Homo sapiens: one gene and its partner. The protein of the gene in region 1 purifies or fractionates together with the protein of each later gene. This does not show direct contact. Each region holds a gene or a part of one and is shown on either strand. Other genes may lie near its edges.

Evidence for each region. Proteins that work in one complex are often made in the same cells at the same time.
Region 2: the proteins of ELMO2 (region 1) and ACVR1 purify together in Homo sapiens (co-immunoprecipitation; one large-scale study listed by IntAct). This does not show direct contact.

What each region holds. Positions count from the first base shown.
Region 1 is NC_000020.11:46,395,850-46,401,270, forward strand, and holds part of ELMO2 (engulfment and cell motility protein 2), read right to left. Parts: intron 2,923-5,421; 5' UTR 2,848-2,922; intron 2,171-2,847; exon of another isoform or gene 1-2,170. UniProt on the Homo sapiens protein: Involved in cytoskeletal rearrangements required for phagocytosis of apoptotic cells and cell motility. Acts in association with DOCK1 and CRK. Was initially proposed to be required in complex with DOCK1 to activate Rac Rho small GTPases.
Region 2 is NC_000002.12:157,738,139-157,740,330, forward strand, and holds part of ACVR1 (activin receptor type-1 precursor), read right to left. Parts: intron 433-2,192; coding exon 302-432; intron 1-301. UniProt on the Homo sapiens protein: Bone morphogenetic protein (BMP) type I receptor that is involved in a wide variety of biological processes, including bone, heart, cartilage, nervous, and reproductive system development and regulation.

The DNA.
Region 1 (5,421 bases):
GCAGCCCCACGAATTAGGCAGAACAGGATTATCACCTCCATTTGAAGATGGCACAACTAAAGCTCAGTGTTTTGTTAAGTGCCCAAGGTCACCCAGCTAGTAAGTCATAACGGTTGACAGAACTTGGACTGGCTTCGGCCAATGCTTTCCCCTTTTCCTTTGAGCCAGCCTCAACTTCTGTCCACTGCAATTAAACGCAGCCTAAAGGGATTGAAGTGGGTTGGCCTTATGGCCCCCAAGGCTTCCATAACTTCTGCAGCTCATGGCAGAATTTTTCACATGTAATTTTTATGTGCCTAGACACACGACAAACCTCAGAAAAGAAACTGGCCCTATCTGCATAATTTCTGGGGAAAATGCTCTGCTCCAGTTACAGCAAGACAGGGAGTTCTTGTTCTAGGGGTGGCGCCATCAATCTCTGGATGCTTAGAGATGCATCCTTATCCTTATCGGCAAAGCTGCTGCAATTAGTAGACAGGACTGCACGGTTGTGAGGTCAATTTTAAAAACTGAGATATAATTTACATACAATAAAATGCAGAGGGCTTAAGGGTACATATGTTTGTATATATAAATATACATCATATAAATATACACATGCATCTCCCTGTAACCAGCACTCAAAACGAGACACTGAACATTTTCATCACCCTAGAAAATTACTTCATACTTCCTCTTCCCGTCAATCCTTCCAGTCCTTTAAAGGGGAATTTCTGACTTATCATCATCCATGAGTTTTGCCTGGTTTTGTACTTCATATAAATGGAACTATACGATATGACTTTTTAGATCATTTGTTTAGTTTGGCTTCTTCTTATTTTTAAAATAAGCAGGCACAGAAGGTACAACAGAAAGAACACTGGGCTGGGATAATTGTCCCTGCTGAAACAAGTGACTGGATTTAGAACCAAAGGCCTCAGGACCCAATCCTAGGTCTTTCACAATGTATACATGGCCCTTTAACCAAATCTCAGTTTTCTTCTATTGAAAGATGTGAGTGTAGAACTAAAGCATGTCTCAGGTGCCTTCTAAGTCTAAAAGTCCATGATTCTTAAGTGGAATTTAAAAAATCCAAGTGAGGATGCCCATTTTAAAGTCCTTACCAAATGAAGTTACACCCTTCCTTAATTTCGATGGTGCTGCTAAGAAACAAACCCCATGATTTTTAACTCCTTTCTGAACGCCGTCTTTGGAGATTAAGCTAAAGCTCATTAGGTTATAGCTATTATTTTCTCTTGACCCCATATGACATATCCTAGATTGACTCTCTCTTTATTAAAGTTAGCCCTGAATGATTCTCGGCTGTTCAAAAATTCGTATACATTTTAAAGCATGGAGATTTGCAACCACCAAACTATTTGAAAGATATTAATAAGCCCCCATTCTCAGTGACTCTGTCCTTCCCACAAAGCCCAGGCAGCCTCTCTGAACTGAATGACACTCTCCACAACCCTGCCATAGCTGATGGGACTAAAGTGAATACCCAACTTTAGCTGAACTATTCCAGTTCTTTCTCTTGAATTTAAAAGACAGAGACTGGCTGGGCGTGGTGGCTCATGTCTATAATCGCAGCACTTTGGGAGGCCAAGGTGGGTGGATCGCCTGAGGTCAGGAGTTTGAGACCACCCTGGCCAACATGGCAAAACCCCGTCTCTAGTAAAAATACAAAAAGTAGCCAGGCATGATGGTGGGCGCCTGTAATCCCAACTACTCGGGAGACTGAGGCAGGGAGGACAGCTTGAACCCAGGAGGCGGAGGTTTCAGTGAGCACAGATTGCACCATTACGCTCCAGCCTGGGCGACGGAATGAGACTCCATCATAAATAAATACACACATACATACATACAAACAAATAAAAGACACAGACTAAGGGAACTGGGTGATAATGACCCTGGAGAAGTAAGATCATAGTAAGCTTCAGAGCGAATACCATGGCAAGCCAAAGATCCGTACGAGCCAAAGATATGGAGAATAAAAAACCAAGAGCCTTTCAGAGGAAGTGATTCTGCAGGAGGAATCCATAAATATCTAAATGAACTGAGGCCAGAAATCAGAAAGAGATGGAAAAGCCATTACCTGCTAACTTTCCAGATTATGTGGCTATTACTTCCTATGCTCGGGGTACCTGAAAGTCCACTGTATCCTGCCAATAAAACTCCTATAAATTAAGCTAGTCTATGTTTCTACTCATTGCAACTAATACGCCTAAGACCACAGCTGCCCCCAAGCTCTGCAGGAACTCTAAAACGGAGGTCTGAGCAGACAGCAGCATCACTAGCATATGATGATGGTACTGGGTAAGCACTTAATTAACAATGGCTGAATTAATGAGAGCAAAACCCATGGGTTTGCTCTTACCCACTAGATAAGTCTGATTTGTTTGAAACAGATCGGTTATATGGTAACTTCATAGTAATCATATATCTAGTAGTAACGTACAGGTAGCCTCTTTATTTTTATTTTTTTAAATTTTTTTTAAAAGATGGAGTCTTGCTCTTGTCGCCTAGGCTGAAGTGCAATGGCATGATTTCAGCTCACTTCAACCTCTGTCTCCTGGGTTCAAGCGATTCTCCTGCCTCAGCTTCCTGAGTAGCTGGAATTACAGATACTCACCACCACGCCCAGCTAATTTTTGTATTTTTAGTAGAGACGGGGTTTCACCATGTTGGCCAGGCTGGTCTTGAACTCCTGACCTCAGGTGATCCATCTGCCTCGGCCTCTCAAAGTGCTGGGATTACAGGCGTGAGCCACTGTGCCCAGCCCAGGTAGCCTCTTTATAGTTGATTGCTCACTTCTATATCATTATTATAGTTGATGCTCATAAGAACTCTGAAAAACATTCCTACCTTACAGGTAAGGCAACTGAAGTTCAGACGGATTGACAAACTTGTTCTCCATGTACCTCTTTCTACACCTCCCTCCTAAAAGAAGGAAGGAAAGAAAAAAAATGAAGGGAGGGAAAAGAAATAAAACTAAATCAACCCAACACATCAGAACTGGGTCTCAAGCCTAGGTCTTAGGACTCCAAAGCGAGTTCTCATCGCTCTATATAATACTTCCTTAGATGATGACATTAGCTAGCAATTACATAATGCTAAGGCACTATTTTAAGGGCTTTACATATATTAATTCATTTAATCCACACAGCAATGCTGTGTGGTATGTTATTATCCCCACCTTAGAGATAAGAAAATGGAGGCACAGAGGAGTTAAGTAGAAGGCTCAGTGTCACATAGCTAGCAAGTGGCACAGCCAGAATTTGATACCAGGTTGTCTGGTGTTGCTGGAAAGCCATGAGAAAGCAGGTGGCTCTGCACCTGACCCGCAGCAGGTGCTTTGTGGAGATTTCTGGTTTGTGTATCTGAAACCAAAGCACACTGAGGCTAAGAAACCTTCACAGCAAGAACTCACCATTGTAACAGAAGACAGCTCTCCACTGTCTACAGGTGGGCCACACTCCCTCGTGTGCTATTTGGTCCTTTACAATCTAGCCATCCTGGACTACGGGCTATTTCTATAAGGCAGGCCATGTTCTTTCAATTCTTCTGTACCTTTGCACATTCTCTTCCTCCTACTGACTGTCAGAAGAGCTCCTATTCAAGCATCAGAGCCTAGTTCGGATGTTACCTCCTCCTTGTACTAGTCTTAGCTTTCTCTACTTTCCCTGGCAAAAGTAAATAGGACAGGGGCCTCTGTGTTCTCACAGCATCCTGTTCATACTTCCGTTAATGAGTACGATTTTGTCATACTCTATTACAGTTACATATTTACACATCTCCACTAGCTCCTCCTCCAGAACAGGTATAACTCTGCAGTCTCATAACCTAGCACAGCACTTGGTGTCCAGTGAAGGCTCAGTAAGCACCTGTGTCTGCTTAAACCCAATGGCTCTGATTTCTTCCACTCCTGTGAACCAGGCTGGCTCCAAACAGACAGGGACAGGCATGAACTGTGCAGGCTGTCTGGTGTTCCCTCTGCGTCCCAATACCCTCTAACTACACAGTATTTCCATTGTTTAACAGTTTGTTTTGGCTGGGCGCAGTGGCTCACACCTGTAATCCCAATGCTTTGGGAGGTCAAGGCAGGAGGATCACTTCAGGCCAGGAGTTCGAGACATTTCTCTACAAAAAATAAAAATTAGCTGGGCATGGTGGCGTGTGCCTGTAGTCCCTAGCTACTCAGGAGGCTGAGGCAGGAGAGTTGCTTGAGCCCAGGAGTTCGAGGCTGCAGTGAACTATGATCATGTCACTGAACTCTAGCCTGGGTGACAAAGTGAGATCCTGTCTCTATTAAAAAATAAAAATAAAATAAAAAACTGTTGTTTTCATATCAAACATTAGAATAAGTCTTACTGAAAAATCAGGGTTAGCACCCCTAACTCTAGTTGAAAGAAAGAGGAAAACCTCCCTCTGCTTTTCTCCCTATCGAAAAGAAACATCAGGAGATAGGAGACTAGAAATAATTCTGTTCTCCAGATAATATTCCCAGGATAAAGGATCTCCTTATAGGGAACCCTTCCAGCACGTGTTTGCTTACTCCCTTCATTTTCATTCTAGAAAGGAAGTAGAAATTAGGTCAAAGGAATTCAGTAACATTGCAAAATTCTCAGGGTTATAAATAGCCTCTTGCTCCGCCACTCAGCAGTACTGTAGCTCAATTGCAAACCACCAGCATAAGGGAGCTGTAGTTCCATATCCAGGCCCAGAGGGCCCCTTCCGGATTAAACAACTCCCCACCCTTCTACCTTCCACTCCTCTTTAAGCATTACAGATATAAGGATGATTTGGAAAACTCAAAATGCTACAAAACAGGAGACAGGCACACACTGACCTGATGACAATTTTACTATAAGTCATAAGAATGAAAGGCCAGTTTTTCAAACACAGAGCTGGGAAAAGTAGAGAAAAATAGGAACATTAGTGTCTCCAATGGAGCAGTCTCTAAGTGGCTTCTAGAAGGTGTGCTTATAAAATCAGCACTGTTACAGAAGCCCCATGGAGCTTTATCAATCACCCATGCAGTGACTGCTGCTTCACGGAGCTGGATTCTGAGAGCAGGATTGGAAACCGAATCTTAAGGAATGAAGTGAAAGATGATCTCCTCCTATTAGTAAGGAATTTGGGATGAAGAATGCCAGGTTTCCAGCTCCCCTCCTTCCCCCTATTCCTTTCAGGATAAGAACGGATGTGTACTTTTTGTTCAGTTATTTGGCTTTTGATTTGGTGAAGGAGGCATGGGTAAGTTTGGTTTATGTTTCCTGCAACAGAATGCAACCTCATCAAGAAGGCAAGTTGGAGTCACGCCCTTTCTAATCGAGAACACAATCTCTATAAAGGCTTCCCCCTCTGAAATCTTCTCATCTGAGAAGTGATTCAACTTCCCTTAGTTCAGTCCACTGAATGACGATCAGACTCTGAGGT
Region 2 (2,192 bases), on another chromosome or scaffold:
ATGCAGTCTTAGGGCTAATAGCAGTAGTCATGAGTCTCCCGATTCCTGAAGCTGCATATTCACAGAAATTCTTACAAATATTGTCATTCACTAGCAACCCCTATGAGATATGGCTTCTTCAAGAATGGAGTATTTTTCTGAACTTACTCTTCTAGATCTAAACCCTTCTATATAAAATAGGAAGAGAAAACAACAGATCCACGGGACAGATCACTCAGATGCAATACCAGTTGAAACTCAAAGGGAAACAAATAGCAAACAATGGAAAAGAGCTCTAAAACTGAGAAACTGGCATTCTTACCGGGTCTGAGAACCATCTGTTGGGTATGTTTGGCCTTTGTTGATCCACACAGACTACCTTCCTCATATCTTCAAAACTTGGGTCATTGGGAACCACATCGTAGAACGGTGGCTTGTAATCCTCCACTATACCTGCACACAAGGACAAGAATTGTGTTCGGTTAGCAAGAGAGTACAGGTTGCCCCAAGGTTTCATTGATGGGTGTCACAGGTTATAATGTGACAGAAGAAAATACTAATCACCTTCCTCATACCTCAGGGCAGTCCTGGAAGCTAGAGGTAGGTCCTAAAACAGGTGGGAGAAAAAGGCAATAAATACACACCCTGCATGGTATTGGAAGAAGGATAATTGTTAGAAGGAAATACGTGAAAACTTCTCATGTAATCATAACTATTAGCAAAATTCTCCAACAGTGTATATTAACAGCTCTGTAACGCCCAACAGGGCACTGGAGACATAGAACAAAAATTCCTTTGGTGATAAAAACCACCCAAGCTACCTATGGAAAGTACCTGAATCTAGTGGTTTCAAACCATAAATAGAAATAAAAAGTTGTCCACAAACTAGAGCTAGGGAGTAATAAACCAAGACCATCATCAAAATACCCCTTTCTTTGTTAGAAAAGTATTTTGTTAAGAAAAACATTGCTATAAATTAATCTCTTCCATTAGGAGGGATGCAAATAATATCATAGGAAATACTCATTTCCTCATTCATTCATTCTACATGTACTGAGTACCCTCTAACTACAGGCACAGCTGTCTGACTGATGGCTCTATTATTTACTATCATATTGAAGGCACAAAATAAAATGTAAAGAGGATAGCCATGTGGGAAGGCAGAGGAAAAGAAGGATAAATAATGAACTCTTCCTCTGCCCAAAAGCAAATATGAACAGTAGCTAATACCAGCTTCTGCCCCTGCATGATTTCCAATGGCCTGGAAACTTTTTCTTTTCCAGCAGAATTATATCAACTCCTTAAACAGAAAAATTTTTAACTTCATCATTTGGAATTAGAAAATGGATTCTTCCCCTTCATAGAAATAAAACCAAGACATCTATTATTTCCTTTCCCTCAACAAAGGGTTCAAACAATGAGGTAATAACTTGGTTTACTGCTCTCTTTTCTTCCTCCAGGCGACTTTCTTCTATTCCTAAATACCTAAGAAGTTGTTGGAGGCGACAGAAGGAGTGTGAGGAAAGTTGTAATTCGGTTGTTCTAGTTCCTACAAGCCACCTGAAAAGCTTCAATTCCCTTTTCATTTATCACAGAAATTACTCAACAGTGGGAATCCATCCTTACAAATTCCATACAAATACAAACCATTTATGCAAAAGATTAGATATAAGGAGCATCTTTTCAAGAAATGCTACATATCTTTTTAAAACTTCACAAATTTGGCTAAATAAAGGTTTATATTTGAGATGGAAACAAGTCTAAATTATATTTTTTAAAAATCTAGGCTGGGTGTGGTCGTTCACGCCTGTAATCTCAGCACTTTGGGAGGTCGTGGTGGGTGGACCACTTGAGGTCAGTGTTCGAGACAAGCCTGGGCAACATGGCAAGACCCTGTCTCTACTAAAAATACAAAAATTAGCCGGGTGTGTTGGCGCGTGCCTGTAGTTCCAGCTAACTCAGGAGGCTGAGGCACAAGATTTGCTTGAACCCGGGAGGTGGATGTTGCAATGAGCCAAGATCAGACCACTGCACTCCAGCCTGGGTGACAGAGTGAGATTCTGTCTCAAAAAAAAAAAAAAACTAGTTAATTCCAAATAACTTACCCACATTGTGTAACTGCATTTGAAATGCATATCAGTCAGTGGATTAAAACCTTTCCTGGCAAATCATAAACATCATATTGGGTATAAACTGCTACTCTCAGAAATCTT